Linked DNA regions of Homo sapiens: region 2 is linked to region 1. Evidence: fine-mapped expression QTL. A gene starts in region 1. The other region holds a variant in brackets. All regions are shown on one strand. Distances are from middle to middle.

The links. PIP is the estimated chance that this variant, and not a neighbour inherited with it, causes the effect.
Region 2: its variant is fine-mapped to the expression of TNFRSF1A in whole blood (TOPMed, PIP 0.96).

The regions. Positions count from the first base shown.
Region 1 is chr12:6,336,965-6,345,445 of GRCh38, reverse strand. TNFRSF1A (TNF receptor superfamily member 1A) reads left to right here and starts at 3,370. Exons shown (of 10, transcript NM_001065.4): 1 at 3,370-3,670. The coding sequence starts at 3,632. It also overlaps the pseudogene RN7SL391P. RefSeq lists enhancers at 3,468-3,567, 8,126-8,175, 7,949-8,243, 8,236-8,325, 7,642-8,481.
Region 2 is chr12:6,134,911-6,143,391 of GRCh38, reverse strand. No RefSeq gene overlaps it. Among named protein-coding and RNA genes, the nearest start is that of VWF, 14 kb to the right of the region's middle. RefSeq lists an enhancer at 488-1,045. The variant T/C (reference allele first, on the strand shown) is at 3,973.

The sequences.
Region 1 (8,481 bases):
TGTGTGTGTGCCATGATGCGGGAGGAAGGTCCCTGCTCTCTGTAGCTGTTTTCTTCATCCTTTGCTCTACAAGCCCTAACAGCCGATTCTGTCATCCCTAGTCTGCCCCTCTCCTGTTTCTCCATCTCCTCTGACCATGATTTTTTTCTGTCCCTGGAGGGATGATGGTCTCATTCTCACCTCCTCCACGAAACGTGTTAGCTTTTCATATTCCTAGATCCACTCACTTCTCATCATCTTTTTTTTTAAACAAAATTTTATTGAAAAATGTAATATGACGTGTCAAAGTTGTAAAGTTATTGAGTAAATAAGCATGTATCCTAAATATTGAAAAATATTCTCCTTTTGTACCAGGCTATGTGTCACGGCTTTGGCGCTTTGCACAGACTATTAGAAATACCTTATAACATTAAAAATAGGACATTGAGGCCGGGCGTGGTGGCTCATGCCTGTAATCCCAGCACTTTGGGAGGCCAGGGTGGGTGGATCACCTGAAGTCAGGAGTTTGAGACCAGCCTGGCTAACACGGTGAAACCCCGTCTCTACTAAATACAAAAAATTAGCCGGGCATGATGGCACATGCCTATAATCCTAGCTACTCGGGAGGCTGAGGCAGGAGAATTGCTTGAATCCGGGAGTCAGAGGTTGCAGTGAGCCGAGATTGTGCCACTGCACTTCAGCCTGGGCAACAAGAGTGAAACTCTATCAAAAAAAAAAATAGGACATTGAAGTTGGTTTCTTTTTTTGATACAGAGTCTCGCTCTGTCACCCAGGCTGGAGTGCACTGGCAGGATCTCGGCTCACTGCAACCTCTGCCTCCTGGGTTCAAGCAATTCTCCTGCCTCAGCCTCCTGAGTAGCTGGGATTACAGGCACGCGCCACCACGCCTGGCTAATTTTGTATATTTAGTAGAGACAGGGTTTCACCATGTTGGTCAGGTTGGTCTCGAACTCCTGACCTTGTGATCCGCCCACCTCAGCCTCCCAAAGTGCTGGGATTGCAGGCGTGAGCCACCGCACTCTGCTTTTTTTTTTTTTTTTTGCCGCCCTCTCACATACCATACTCCCCTGTATCACTTATCCTTCTGAAGTTGTTATTAATCATTAATACAACTAGCTGGGCATAGTGGTGTGCGATGGTAGTCTTAGCCACTCGGAAGGCTGATGTGGGAGGCTAGCTTGAGGCCAGTAGTTCTAGGTTAGGTGAGCTATGATTGCACCATTGCACTTTAGCCTGGGTGAGAGCAAGCTCCTGTTTCAAAAAAAAAATTAATTGCTACCACTTACTAAATGCTTAATATATGGCAAACACTTGCCAAACACTTTATATGCTTGATTTAAGCATCAAGCTAGCTCTGTGAAGGGTACCAGCAGGTTTCCCATTTTTTAGATGAGCAGACCGAGGTTCTTCTCGCTGCTTCATACTGGAAACTTGCACTTGATTCTGAGGCTCCTGCTTCTTCAAGAACACTGCTTTGGGTTCGCTTCTCCTGTCCCTGGGGTCTCCCTTTGTGATGGTGGTGAGCTGCTTCCTTTCTGAATCCAGCTTCAACCCTACAGTTCTCCAGAAGCTGGACGATGGGGTGGAGTAAAGTCAGCTCCCCCCGCAGTGAGGGACACTGAAGCTCCATTCTCATCTGCGGATCACAGAGGGGAAGCCAGGAAGAGCCAGGGGACGGTGGACTTGGGGCTGGGAGGTCATCTCAGAGGGATAAGGGGTGAGGAGCTCTGGTTTCAAGTTCCAAAGCCCTAGGACCTCCCTCTTCTCTGTCTGCCTGCATTTCTAGCAGCCTCAGCAGCTGCAGGCCCTTGGGCGGGGCTGGATGTAGGGAAGGTCATTGTACCAAGAAGATAGTTGGGTAAATGTGGTACCTTTGTTGTAGGATTCTCTTGGGAGATGTCTGCATCAATGAGGATGGCATAAAGTAACCAGAGTCAGGATGTGGGGTCTGACTCAGTGACAGAAAAAGTGGCAGTGTGTCTCTCATAGCCAAAGGGGCCCTTGGACCGGCAGTCGGGAGTCTGGGGTTCTCTGTTGGCTCTGCCTCCTGGCACATTGGGTTTCTGGACCTCAGTTTTCTCCTCTATAAAACCGGGCAGTTGGGTGGGCACGGTGGCTCACACCTGTAATCCTAGCACTTTAGGAGGCTGAGGTGGGCAGATCATTTGGGCCCAGGAGTTCAAGACCTGCCTGTGTAACATGGTGAGACCCTGTCTCTACAAAAAATACAAAAATTACCCAGGCGTGGTGGTATGCACCTATAGTCCCAGCTGCTTGGGAGGCTGAGGTGGGAGGATTACTTGAACCTGGGAGGTCGAGGCTGCAGTGAGCTGCGATGGTACCACTGCACTCCAGCCTGGGAAACGGAGCGGACCCTCAAAACAAAAACAAAAATGAAAAACAAGCAAACGAAGAAATAAAAAAACCTAGGGGGTTGTAGTCGATGATCTGTAAGGTGAGTTATAATTGATGTATTGGAATATTTAGGAAAAGGGCACTGGGAATATGCTAGGAACACCTGATGGAGGTATCTTTATTTCCACGGCAGCTTCGTGGATACGTCTCATTGATTCTCATGGCATCACTTTCCCCATGTAGGTGGGCAGACATTGTTACCCCTGTTTAATAAACAAGGAACCAACAGAGGCTTAGGAGAGGAGTTGCCTGATGTCGCATGATTGGTGGCAGAGCCAGGATCAACAGTGGGGCAGGGTGGGGGGACCTGGCCAGGCAGAGACTGGATGAGACCTGGGGTGAGGAATGGCAGGCACCCAGTCAGGGCAGAAAACGAGGGTTGGGACTTACTTTGAGTTTTGGATTGGATCAGTAAATTCCCAAGAAAGAGGGAGACTAGGAGGCTAGTGAAGAACTCTGGAGTAAAGGGGAGGATTACTAAGGGACATGGAGTACCTATCATGTGTCGGACGCTTATCTATATCTCTCCCATCTGAACAAATCCTTACAGGAACCCCAGGAGACAGGTTATCTCCACTCTGCAAATTGGAAAACAGATCCAGACAGTTTCAGTTATGTGTCTGAGAAGTTCATTTATGTGTCCAAGACACATTCTTAGCTAAAAAGCTAAGCATTCTGAATTGGAACCCAGAGAATTTGACTCCCAGACTCTGGATCTTTTCACTGCTGTGATCCATCTGGGAAAGGCTAGTGATGTGGGCAAGGGGCTTATTGCCCCTTGGTGTTTGGTTGGGAGTGGTCGGATTGGTGGGTTGGGGGCACAAGGCAGCCAGATCTGGGACTCCTGTGCTTGTGACTGGACTACAAAGAGTTAAAGAACGTTGGGCCTCCTCCTCCCGCCTCCTGTGGCCTCCTCCTCCAGCTCTTCCTGTCCCGCTGTTGCAACACTGCCTCACTCTTCCCCTCCCACCTTCTCTCCCCTCCTCTCTGCTTTAATTTTCTCAGAATTCTCTGGACTGAGGCTCCAGTTCTGGCCTTTGGGGTTCAAGATCACTGGGACCAGGCCGTGATCTCTATGCCCGAGTCTCAACCCTCAACTGTCACCCCAAGGCACTTGGGACGTCCTGGACAGACCGAGTCCCGGGAAGCCCCAGCACTGCCGCTGCCACACTGCCCTGAGCCCAAATGGGGGAGTGAGAGGCCATAGCTGTCTGGCATGGGCCTCTCCACCGTGCCTGACCTGCTGCTGCCACTGGTGAGACCAGGGACAAAGGGAAGAGTGGGCTGGTGGGCGAGGCACCTTCCGGCTGGCGTGGGCCCTCTCCGGGAGGGGGCCGAGCCTCTCCTGCCCGGGCCTGGTCCTGGCGCCAGCCTCAGGCCTGCAGGTCCTAACCTCAGCCACTGCCAGTGTGGGGTTCCCCATTCATCCGCCTTTTGGAGTAGGGGCTGCGCTGAGGCAGGGGAATGGGAGAAGTTTGAAAGGGAGAGAGTAAAAGGAAGCCCTGGCCCCTGACAGCGGTGGAAGTTTGTGGGCGGCCAAGGGAATGTGGGCAGGAGATAGGCCCAGGGTGGGGCAGATTTGGCGGGGAAAAGAAGGGAGTGGGAGTAGGAAGATTAGTGCTCGGGGAGTCCAGACGGTTCTGAATTCTGTCCCTCCGGTCAGCTGGCTGGCCTGGAGGGTGTTGGGCCGTGGGGAGGCGAGGCTGCCTGTGGAACTTGGTGGAGCACACCCTGTAGGGCAGGATTTTGGCGGCTGGTGAAGTGGGGGAGTGAGTTGAGGAGTGGGGATGGGCTGGTGTGGTGGGTTTGGGATGCTCATGGTGGGAGGTATTTGAGAATGGGCTGGGACACTGGATGGGGCAGGGCAACCCAGTGGACAGTGTCCCCAGTGCCCTGGCCAAGCCCCGGCCTCTCACCTGGGGACATTCTTTACCCTTTTGCCTGCTGCTAGGCAGGTAGCCGCTGTGGGACTGAGCCTTCCCAGGGAGCTAGTCCTACCCCCACCTGGTCAGTGTCCCTGGGCCTGTCCTCCAGCTTCCCCTCCCCGCTGCTTCTCACAGACCTAAACAACAATCCCTTGGTTTCTTATTCTACAGTTCAGTTTGGGGAAGTTGGTAGAAAGTTGTTTTCGTCACTGGAAAATGTCCCTTTCTCTGGCCTCAGCCTTGTTTCAATGTATCCTTGATCGTCCTCCACGTCTTGGTCCGGGAATCATCCTGTTCAGATGTCCTGGGCCCATCTAGTCAGGCAGATTTTCCCTGCCCTGCCCGGCCTCTGAAGGCTGCGCCTACCTCCCCTCTCTTTAGTGCCTTATACTCTTCCTCTCCTACCATTCCTTTCTTCCAGCAATCTCCCCAGACTCTCCTCAGACTTCTCAGAGCCTCTTTTTTTGAAATCTTTTCTCGCTAATCCTCCTTCCCCTCCTCTCTGCTCCGCTCTGGTCCCGGCCCCAGGTCCCCAGGCAGCACGTCTCTGGTCAGGGTCTCACTCTTCTTCTTCTGCCTCCTCCTGCCTCCTTAGTCCCACCCGCTCTTCCCTTCTTCCCACTGTCCTTCCCCCACGGTCTCCCCACCAGCCAGCTGCCCTGACATCCTGCTTCTGTTTTCTGTTTGGGGGCGGCCCCTGGCTCCCTCACATACCTCCTGCATGAACAAGAGCAGCTTATATAACCTAACCTTCCATGCCTTCGTTTCTTTATCTCCAAAATGGGTGTCACAGTCTTGACCTCATACTGTTGTTTTGAAGATTGAATAGACTGATACATGTTAAGTGTTCATTTGATTTATTAAGTGTGCGCTCTGGGCTAGACACTGTGATAGGTGCTGGGATTACAGCAGAGAACAAAATCCCTGCCCACAGCTTTGACAGTCCATCAGGGGAATAGGTTGTAGCAAATAGAAAGCACTCAATAAAGTTTTTATATTGCTGTGACTAGTAGTAATTACTGGGTGGCTACCTGTGTTGGGAAAACAGAGGGTAAAGGTAGCCTGAACAGGTAAAGGGAAGTGCCTGCGTCCTGGGGTGCTTCAGCCCAGGTGGGATTATGTCTCCTAAGGGACAGAAGCCTGGCCTGGAGCTGGAGGAAAGGGAAAACAAAGGGAATGCAACATCCTTCTGAATTTCTCACCATTCAGTGGGCAATGCAGAGCTCACAGTGTGTGTGTGTGTGTGTGTGTGTGTGTGTGTGTGAGAGAGAGAGAGAGAGAGAGAGAGAAGTGGGGTAGGGGAGTAGGGAAGAATGATACAGGAGAGACTGTGGCAAAGCAAACAGGATTTTGCTGCTCTCAAAGAGCTTACAGCCTAGTAACCAAGATGGCTTACAGTGAAAAATGATTTCAGAGCAATCCCGAGGAAAATATCCACAAATGCATTGTGATGTGGTGTCCTGGAGCACCAGTTGGGAGGAGGAGGAACTGGGGAAGGAGGTGAGCCTTAGTCCACTGCCTTTCCTTGCTTAGCAGGTCTCAGCTCCTGCGCTCAGCTCCAGAAAATTCAGGAGCTTCCCCACGCTGCTTCAGTGTCCTTCACTGTGCAACTGCAGCACTCCCTGTATAGATCTCAGTGCCTACAACTGACTGTCTTTGACTCAAGTGAGAGCTCTTGAGAGCACGAGCTGTGTATTATCCACCTCAGCATCCCTAGCACCCATACGGGACCTGTCACATTAACTGTGCCCCTTAACTATTTGCTGAAGGAATTAAGGAACAAGAGATGTGTCAGATGGGATGGCGGAGGGAAAGCCTCATAGAAAAGTGGATGTGGAGCTGACATCTGAAGTCACTGCCTGTCAGGGTAGCTATAAAGGAGGGAAGCAGAGTTGGATACTGATGTGAGGAAGAGGAGAGGAATGGAGAGATGGGATTTTGTGTTGATGGGCAGGGTGGCAGGAAGCCAGACACCTTGGTTCGGGAGTGGAAAAACCATGTTGAGAAACACTAAGAAATGTGAATGGGAGAATTAGAGGGAGTGGGGGAGAGGATGGAGGAAGAGTGTTGAATATGGTTCCAGGTGGAGGAATTCATTCATTCGTTTATTCAGAAGCTGTTCTCCTAGGGCACATTCTGTGCCCAGACTGTGATTAGAAGTGAGGTGAGGCATCTCAGATGGGTGCTGTGGTTCATGCCTGTAATTCCAGCACTTCAGGAGGCCGAGGTGTGTGGATTGCTTGAGTCCAGGAGTTCGAGACCAGCCTGGGCAACACAGCAAAACCCTGTCTCTACAAAAAATACAAAGATTAGCGGGGCATGGTGGGGCGTGCTTGTCATCCCAGCTATTCGGGAGACTGAGCTCGGGAGGACGGCTTGGGCCCAGGAGGTGGAGGTTGTAGTGAGCCCTGACCACACCACTACATTCCGTCCTGGTGGTGAAGGTTGCAGTGAGCTATGATTGTGCCACTGCACTTCACCCTGGGTGACAGAGTGAGACCCTGTTTCAAAAAAAAAAAAAAAAAAGTAGTGAGGCATCTGTGGAAGTCTTCAGATCATTTCCATGACCATGGAAATGCTGTTTGGAGCCAGGCCCTGGAGATGGAGAGGAAGGTTCACACACTTGTGCGTGCAAGTTAAAGCCTGAATGAAGATTTAAAAAGTGTGTAGGACGGATGGGAGCAGGAGAGAGGCTAGAAGACACTTGCAATAACCCAGGTGTGAGGCAACCCAGGAATGCGGAGAGGACCGAGAGATCACAGGGGGAGGCCTCGCAAGATGAACTGACACATGGGATGGCGGCAGGGATAGGGATGGGGCCCTGGGGAGAGAGCGTGGCAAGTTCTCAGCATTCGTCCGGGAAGTCGATGGTGTGTCATTTGTCTAGGTGAGGAGATGGATGAATTCCGTCTGGGGCATGTTAAGGGTCAGGGAAATGGTCATGTGGAAGGGTGCGCCTACCAAGCTGGAGGAGAGGTGCTGCAACTTCTTTCTGCCTTTGTATCATTCAGACACACTGTGTTCACTCATCAGTGGTTCTCAAAAGGAGAGGAGCACACCAGACTCTTAAGTAAGGGTGTGTGTGCTTGTGTGTGGGGAGGTGGGGGGATGGTCTGAAAACTCTCCCCCGGAGATAAATATATTCCTACCAGGGGTGCTGTCTCCTCACCTCCCTCTTTGGGAATCACTGGCTTCTACTAGAGTGGAAGACAGATGTATCATTAGATCGATCAGTTGATCCATATTTATCTGCTCCCAGTCTGGAGGTCTGGTTCTGGGAGCTGAGAGGACACCAGGGGAGGATAAGACACTTTCTGACCAAGACATTTTTTGATCTCTCATCTTATAAGGTTCGTGGTCACTTTGGGGAGATCATATCTGTCACCCAACATAACCATATTATGATAAGAGCCAAAAGTAGATAGGGTCAGTTCACGTGCTTCGAGTTCACAGGGACTATGGGTCTAAGGAGCCGGGGTGGAGGAAACAGACATCGTCAATGGTGGCTTCACGGGAGGGAGATGGGATCTCAACTGGGCCCTTGGAGGAGAAGCTGCCACGACCTCCCCCAACACCTTGACATTAAATGAACAGACACATGAATGAGGGGGAAAGGAAGACTAATTGGGTCCCTGCAAGGTGGCTGGATCGGGGTCAGACCACAAGGCCGATCTCAGCGTCGCCTCCCCACTCTGCAGCCCCAGCACAGGAAGTCACACTTTAAAGCCTCCTCTGGCGGAAATTGTGGGGGAGTTGGAGGGGTGTTGGGCCACCCCCTCAACTGTCTCTCCACAGGCACCCCAGCTTCCTGCCCTTCTGCTCCAGGCTGGAGTCTGGGCCTAAAGAGCTCACCTCCTGTTTCTCCTGTTTTGCTTCATTTACGCAACTGCTGAGGACTGGGCTTACTGGGGCCAGCTGGTGCCAGCAGTGGTGCCCAGTGGTGGGGAGTCTGAGGGCCCTGGCTCCTAGGGATCAGAGAGGGCTGACCTGGAGCATTCTGGGGGCCAGGGGAAGCCTAGGAAGCAGGGCTGGTTCTTCCATCCGGCATCCCTTCTTGCCTGCTCCCTCGTTCCTGGAAGTGGGTGTTCAGGGCTCTGGAGGCTTTCCTGTATTGCCAGTGGGCTTGGGGAGGGTCTGTGGA
Region 2 (8,481 bases), 200 kb after region 1:
CTGGAATTGGTGGGTTCTTGGTCTCACTGACTTCAAGAATGAAGCCACAGACCCTCGTAGTTAACAGCTCTTAAAGTGGCACATCTGGAGTCTGTGTCTTCTGACTTTCAGATGTGTTCAGAGTTTCTTCCTTCTGGTGGGTTCATGATCTCCCTGGCTCAGGATTGAAGCTGCAGACCTTTGCGGTGGGCGTTACCACTCTTAAGGCAGTGCATCTGGAGTTGTTCGTTCCTCCCGGTGGGCTCGTGGTTTTGCTGGCCTCAGGAGTGAAGCTGCAGATCTTCACGGTGAGAGTTACAGATCTTAAAAGCAGTGTGCACCCAGAGTGAGCAATAGCAAGATTTATTGCAAAGAGCAAAAGAACGAAGCCTTCACACTGTGGAAGGGGACCGGAGCGGGTTGCCAATGCTGGCTCCGGCAGCCTGCTTTTATTCTCTTATCTGGCCCCACCCACATGCTGCTGATTGGTAGAGCCGAGTGGCCTGTTTTAACAGGGCGCTGATTGGTGCGTTTACAATCCTTGAGCTAGATACAAAGGTTCTCCACGTCCCCATCAGATTAGTTAGATACAGAGTTTCCACACAGAGGTTGTCCAAGGCCCCAGCAGAGCAGCTAGATACAGAGTGTCGATTGGTGCACTCACAAATCTTGAGCTAGACACAGGGTGCTGATTGGTGTGTTTACAATCCCTGAGCTAGATATAAAAACTCTCCACGTCCCCACCAGACTCAGGAGCCCAGCTGGCTTCACCTAGTGGATCCCGCACCTGGGGCTGCAGGTGGAGCTGCCTGCCAGTCCCGCGCTGTGCGCTCTCATTCCTCAGCTCTTGGGTGGTCGATGGGACTGGGCGCCGTGGAGCAGGGGGTGGTGCTCGTCGGGGAGGCTTGGGCCACACGGGAGCCCATGGAGTGGGTGGGAGGCTCAGGCATGGCAGGCTGCAGGTCCCGAGCCCTGCCCCGCGGGAAGGCAGCTAAGGCCCGGCGAGAAATCGAGCGCAGCGCCGGTGGGCCAGCACTGCTGGGGGACCCAGTACACCCTCCACAGCTGCTGGCCCGGGTGCTAAGTCCCTCATTGCCCGGGGCCAGCAGGGCTGGCCGGCTGCTCTGAGTGTGGGGCCCGCCAAGCCCACGCCCACCCGGAACTCCAGCTGACTCGCAAGCGCGGCACGCAGCCCTGCTTCCTGCTCGCGCCTCTCCCTCCACACCTCCCTGCAAGCTGAGGGAGCGGGCTCCAGCCTTGGCCAGCCCAGAAAGTGGCTCCCACAGTGCAGTGGGGGGCTGAAGGGCTCCTCAAATGCCGCCAAAGTGGGAGCCCAGGCAGGGGAGGTGCTGAGAGCAAGCAAGGGCTCTGAGGACTGCCAGCACGCTGTCACCTCTCAATACCTTAACTTGCAAGTAATTGAAAGTGGGTATATGTATGACTGTTGACCTGCCCCTGAGCTGGTGCTCTCAACACATTGCCTAGGGGTTAGCCCTGCTCTGCAGGAGTAGTCATAAAGTTGTCACACTGCTGCCTCCATAAAGCTGTTTTCTTCTACCACCAGCTGGCTCTTGAATTCTTTCCTGAGCAAAGCCAAGAATCTTCCAGGGCTAAGTCCCAATTTGGGAGCTTACTTGCCCTGCATCAGTGCAATCATAGCTCACTGCAGCCTGGAACTTCGGGGCTCAAGCAATCCTCCTGCCTGAGCCTCCTGAATAGCTAAGATGACAGATGTGTGCCACTACACCTGGCTAATTTTTTCTTTTTTTTGTAGACATGAGGTCTCACTTTGTTGCCTAGGCTGATCATTGTTTTTAAAATTTCTATCTTTACTGATTTTTATCTGCCTGACCTATGGATAATTGAGAAAGCCTTTTTGAAGTCAATTGTCAATTTATGTATTTTGAAGCTATTTTGTAAGATGCATATAAATTTGAGTTGCTGTAACTTTCTGCCTCTCAAATTAGAACCCCAGGTCTTGAGATAGTGATTCTGGGGTCAGGAATCCTGCTGTGCTACTACTGGGGCCAGGAATGCCACCAGATGTAATGGTCTGAGTTCTCTGTAGCTCGATAGCAGCAATAATGTGGTGTCATTGTTCCTGAGAACCAGGGAAGATGAGTCTGAAGCTGCACCATTCTTCTGACATTGTAGCGTGGGTGGGTCCTCTCTATTTTGATGATTGTGAAGGAAGTGAGCATGTTATTCTTGCACAAGATGTTTGTCTTTAGAAGAGAGGAAGTAGAGGAGGACAGCTTCCTCTCCGCTGGGGGCTACAGCTTTATGCTGGGAGCTGGTCGTCTGGCCTAAGAAATACTGCTGTGTTTATTTATTTGGCGCATACTGCCAAGAAAATTCTCTTTCCTGCAGAATTTACGTAAGAGAGATGCTACAAATATACAAAGAAAAGACAAAGATGGGTCCTCCTAGAAAACCTTTCCTCCCCTGAGGTTCTTTTGCTTTTGTACTAGTTACCTGGAGAACTTACTCCTCAGACAGGCAGAGGTCAATTTACCCATCCCCCTGCCTCTGAGCAGCCCTGCCCCATGCGCCCCCAGAGGTCACGCACCCTTCCCATTTGTACTTAATGCTGTTTACATCAGCCCAAGTTCTAATGGCTCTCATACTGTGGTCCTCAGGGATCCTTCTTCCTTGAGCCTCACAGCACTAATTGTCCTCTAACTTATTTGGCAAAGCTGCCTTGGGACACCCTCCATGAGGGCAAGGGAGCAGGTTGTGTGGCATGATATCTTGGCCTATATTAGTTTTCTATTGCTGCAGTGACAAATGACCACAAGCTTAGTGGCCTGAAACAACACAAATTTATCTTACAATTCGTAATTGTAAGAAGCTCGAATTGGATCAAAATCAAGGTGTGTTGGAAGAGCTGGATTCCTTCTGTAGGTTCTATGGGAGAACCTGTTCTTCGCCTCTATCCACTTCCAGGGGCACACATTCCTTGCCTCGTGGCCCCGCGTTGCATGACCTCTGCTCGCATCATCACATCTCCTTCCCTGATGCTGACCCTCCTGCTCCTCTTATAAAAACTCTTGTGATTATATCGGCCCAGCAGGATACTCTGGGGTAAGCCAGGATCATCTCCCCATCTCAAGACCCTTAACTTGCTCACATCTGCAAAATCCCTTTTGCCATGTAAGGTAGCATTCAGAGGTTTGAGATGGGATGTAGACATCTTTGGCTGTTCTTCTGCTACCGTAATGTGTTACGTGGTTGGCTGTATCTGCTCTTCTCTTGTCAAACCCATGGTCTCCTCCAGGCCCTCGTCTTCCCTGTCCGGGAAGGTTCCACCAACCACTAATGGATCTCCCTTTCTCCATCTGACCTCTCACAATACATGCCACTGCTGCCAGAGGGCCTCATCTGGTGTCACAGGATGAACATAAACCCCTACACTGGTTGAAGGTCCCTGAGGACTTGCCTCTTATTCCTCTCTTTGGTCTCTTTTCCTGTGAGTCTCCTTTATAGGCTGTAACAACTGGCTTATTCACCTACTTACTGATTTAGCATCTCAGAGCTTGCCTGCTTCTAAGCTTTTACTTCCTTCCTTGCAGCTGATGTGCCTTTGCCCTCATTTTCACCTGGCAAAATCCTACTCAGCAAATGGGTAATTAAACCATTGCAACCATTATAAACCATTGCAATTTTTCAGGGGGGCCATTTGGCCTTATTGTCAAAGGCCTCACTGAAAATGTGGACGGTGGCTGACCCAGTGCTCCACATGTAGGATTTCATCCTGTGGGAGTAATCCTGAGGGTTGTGCATGGATATAGCTTCAAAGATGTTCACTGCAGCATTGTTAATTAAAAAAAAAAAAAAGTAGGCCGGGAGTGGTGGCTCACGCCTGTAATCCCAGCACTTTGGGAGGCAGAGGCGGGCGGATCACGAGGTCAGGAGATTGAGGCCATCCTGGTTAACGCGGTGAAACCCTGTCTCTACTAAAAATACAAAAAATTAGCCGGGTGTAGTGGCGGG[T/C]GCCTGTAGTCCCAGCTACTCGGGAGGCTGAGGCAGGAGAATGGCATGAACCCAGGAGGTGGAGCTTGCAGTGAGCCGAGATTGCGCCACTGCACTCCAGCCTGGGTGACAGAGCGAGACTGCATCTCAAAAAAAAAAAAAAAAAAAAAAAAGTAGCACTAACCTAAATAAATATCCCATAATATGGAACTGGTTACATAAATTGTGGAATATCAGTAAGTGAACTATTCCAGCCAAGTGTGTTATACTCTGATAAAACAGACACTTGAGTGTTATTTAGAAATAGTGCCAGAGTGTCATATGAGTTACAGGCGCAGAATACCACATGGGAACGTGACCCCAGTCTGATGTCCCTGCCCCCTTGCAGAGCCATCCTGTGACTTTCACCGTGCAATTTCCCCAACCACAGTGACGAGTGCTATCTTCTGTGCTGATGATTTGGAGAGCAGGCAACAACTTCCTTGGGTATTAAGCAATTTTTTTTATCTGCAGTTTCAGTTCTGTAGCTACATTTTAATATTATATGCTAATTAACCCACATCATTGTTCTACTAGCAGGGAGTTCAACAGACATTTATGGAGCACTTACCATGTGCTATGCTCCAGACAGAGCACTTTGGAAGATACAGAGATGAGTAAGGCAAGGTCTTGTTCTAAGGAGAGCTCAGACTGGAGGAGATAAGACAAACAAAAATGCATGAAAAGGCTGGGAGCGGTGGCTCATGCCCATAATCCTAACACTTTGGGAGGACGAGGCGGGCAGATCACGAGGTCAGGAGATCAAGACCATCCTGGTAACACGGTGAAACCTCGTCTCTACTAAAAATATAAAAACAAAAAATTAGCTGAGTGTGGCGGTGGGCGTCTGTAGTCCCAGCTACTCGGGAGGCTGAGGTGGGAGAATGGCGTGAACCAGGGAGGCAGAGGTTGCAGTGAACCAAGATCGCGCCATTGCACTCCAGCCTGGGCAACAGAGCGAGACTCCGTCTCAAAAAAAAGAAAAATGCATGAAAAGATGAGAGGGCCACAGAAGCACCCAGAGGTGGTTCAAAGGCAGGAAAAGCGGGGGTGAAGGGTGGGAGGAAAGGAGAAAAGGCTTATGGAAGAGTTATAGGTATAGTGGAGAAAACACGGACTTTGTAATCAGGTAGATTCAGATGCTGGCTGCCTTTGGTAGCAGTGTGATCCTAGGCAAGGCCCTTACCCTGTCTGAGCCTCAGCATCCTCAACTATAAAATGAGAGTAACGCTCTCTTTCCCTCAAACGGTTGTTAGAAGGTACAGTGGATTGAATGGTGACCCCCAAAAGACATGTCCACATTCTAACTCCTGGACCCTGTGAATGTGACCTTACTTGGAAAAAGGCTTTTTGCAGATGTAATTAAGGATGTCAAGATAGATCACCCTAGATTACTAGATCCTTAGGCGGGGTGTGGTGGCTCACGCCTGTAATCCCAGCACTTTGGGAGGCCGAAGTGGGCAGATCACTTGAGGCCAGGAGTTTGAGACCAGACTGGCTAACATGGCAAAACCCTGTCTACTAAAAATACCAAAAAAAAAAAAAAAAAAAAAAAAGGCTGGGTGTGGTGGTGGTGCCTGTAATCCCAGCTACTCGGGAGGCTGAGGCAGGAGAATCACTTGAACCTCGGAGGTGAAGGCTGCAGTGAGTCAAGATTGTGCCACTGCAATCCAGCCTGGGTGATAGAGTGAGACTCCACCTTGACAAAAACAAAGAGGCTGGGTGCGGTGGCTCTCGCCTGTAATCCCAGCACTTTGGGAGGCTGAGGCGGGTGGATCACCTGAGGTCAGGAGTTCAAGACCAGTCTGGGCAACATGGTGAAACCCTGTCTCTACTAAAAATACAAAAATCCGCTGGGTGTGTTGGCACGTACCTGTAATCCTGGTTACCTGGAAGGCTGAGGCAAGAGAATCACTTGAGCCAGGTAGGCAGAGGTTGCAGTGAGCTGAGATTGCACCATTGCACTCCAGCCTGGGTGACAGTGAGACTCCGACTCAAACAAACAAAAAAACCAAAAAAAGATTACTAGGTCCTTCCAGATTACTTAGATTCAATGTCAGGTGTTCTTATAAGAAATATACAGTGGGAGACACACAGGGAGATGAGGAGAGAGCCATGTGAAGACAGAGGCTGAGATTAGAGTGATGCTGCCACAAGCCAAGGAAAGTCTGAAGCCACCAGAAGCTGGAAGAGGTGAGGAAGGTCTCTCCCTTACAGCCTTTGTGGACACCTTGATTTCAGACTTCTTCCTTTCAAAACTGTGGGAGAAGACATTTGTGCTGTTCTAAGCCACTCGGTTTGTGGTGATTTGTTACGGCAGCACTGGGACACTCACAGAGGAGGATGAAGTAACACAGTGTTCACAAGCAGCTAGCAGAGTATCTGGTACTTGCAAGGTGTTCACCAAATGACAAATTCTCCCTCTGCAGGAGGGGGACATGGAAGGATGAACAGGAGAGAGGAGGAGTGGGGAGGAGGCAGGACATTTGGATGGTGGAACAGTGTGAGCTGAACACAAGAGGTGTCTGGGAAGCAATGCCTCCGGGGACCAATCAGACATTCTGGGGTGCAGGGTGTGGGGTCAGGGTGGACGTGGGCGTGTGCTCAGCAAGGGTGCAGGAGGAAGGCACGTGTGCTGACTGTTGGATGGGAGGTTGGAGAAGAAGGGCCCACCGAAAGGGAAAGAGGCAGGCTGCTGGGGCTCCTCCTCGCCCTGGGGCCTTCCACCTGGGCTGCTCCTGCCTGGCCTCTAGTGCCTTGGTGCTCCTGGTGGAGCTGAAGCAGTGCTTGAGGCCATGCCAGAGGAAAGTCGCTGGGCTGCTGGTCATTAAAGGAGTCATAATGGGCTTGGGAAGAAGGAAGCAGCAAGTGGGATGGAGTGAAGATTTCAGATCCTTGAGTTTGTTTACTGAGCACCTGGTAACCCCCTGGATTCTTCTGTCAACCTGGCTATGAACATGTAATCAAGGATGGCAAGATAGATCATCCTAGATTACTAGATCCTTAGGTCAGGCATGGTGGCTCACACCTGTAATCCCAGCACTTTGGGAGGCCGAGGTGGGCGGATCACCTGAGATCAGGAGTTTGAGACCAGCTTGACCAACATAGTAAAACCCAGTCTTTATTAAAAAGTACAAAAGTTAGCTGGGTGTGGTGGCACATGCCTGTAATCTCAGCCACCTGGGAGGCTGAGGCAGGAGAATGGCGTGAACCTGGGAGGCGGAGCTTGCAGTGAGCCGAGATCTCGCCACCGCACTCCAGACTGGGTGACAGAGCAAGACTCCATATCAAAAAAAAAAAAAAAAAAAAGAAAAAGAAAAAGAACATGAGATGATTCCTCAAACTCCTGTACATCAAAAAACAAACAACAAAAAAAACCCTCATCAATATATATTAAAGTGAAGAACTGAAAAAAAAAATCCTCATATCAATGTGAGAAAACACTAACATTTTTAATCTTTAAAGAGCTTTTATAGATCAATATAGATAAGCATCTCAGTTAAAAATGAGCTAAAGACATGAACAAGAAATTCACAAAAGAAGAAATACACATCGACAATGTTAGAAAATGTTCTCCCAATAATGAAAGGAATGAGTATTAAAGTAACAATCTTTTTTTTTTTTTAAGACGGAGTCTTGCTCTGTCGCCCAGGCTGGAGTGCAGTGGCGTGATCTCAGCTCTCTGCAAGCTCCGCCTCCCGGGTTCACGCCATTCTCCTGCCTCAGCCTCCCGAGTAGCTGGGACTACAGGCGCCCGCCACCGTGCCCCGCTAATTTTTTTTGTATTTTTAGTAGAGACGGGGTTTCACCGTGGTCTCCATCTTCTGACCTCGTGATCCACCCACCTCAGCCTCCCAAAGTGCTGGGATTACAGGCGTGAACCATGGCGCCTGGCCTAAAGTAATAATCTTATAATAGTTTTTGCCACTTACATTACCAAATCTGTAATAAAAAATAATAATGCTATAGAAGGGTAAATTGGTAAAGTTCTTGGGAGGATATATAAAAGGCTTAATTTTTGTGCCCTTTGACCGAGCAATTTCTTTTACTTCTAGGAATTTGTTTCAAGGAAATGGGCTGTGTGTGTGAGGATTTATGTACAGGATGTTGGTCACCCTGCTATTTGTAAGGCAAAGCCAATATTTCCACGTCACTTGGCTTCAGAGCTTTATCTTTTAAGTGAAACTTTCAACCACAGAGAAAACTAAAGAGGATAATGCAGAAACACCCATGTTCTAGCCAGCTTGCTGCATGTTAACATTTTGCCATATTTGCTTTATACTTTTGAAATAATTAACAAAATATTTACAGAGAGGTATGGCCCCCTAGGTCCCACTCTCTGGATTCCATCTTCTCTTTTCTTCCCTAGAGGTAACTAGTATCCCGAATTTACAGGTTATCACTCCACCTGCATGTTTTACTGTAAGTAAACGTATTTATTTATTCATTTATTTTTTGAGACAGAGTCTCAATCTGTTGCCCAGACTGTTG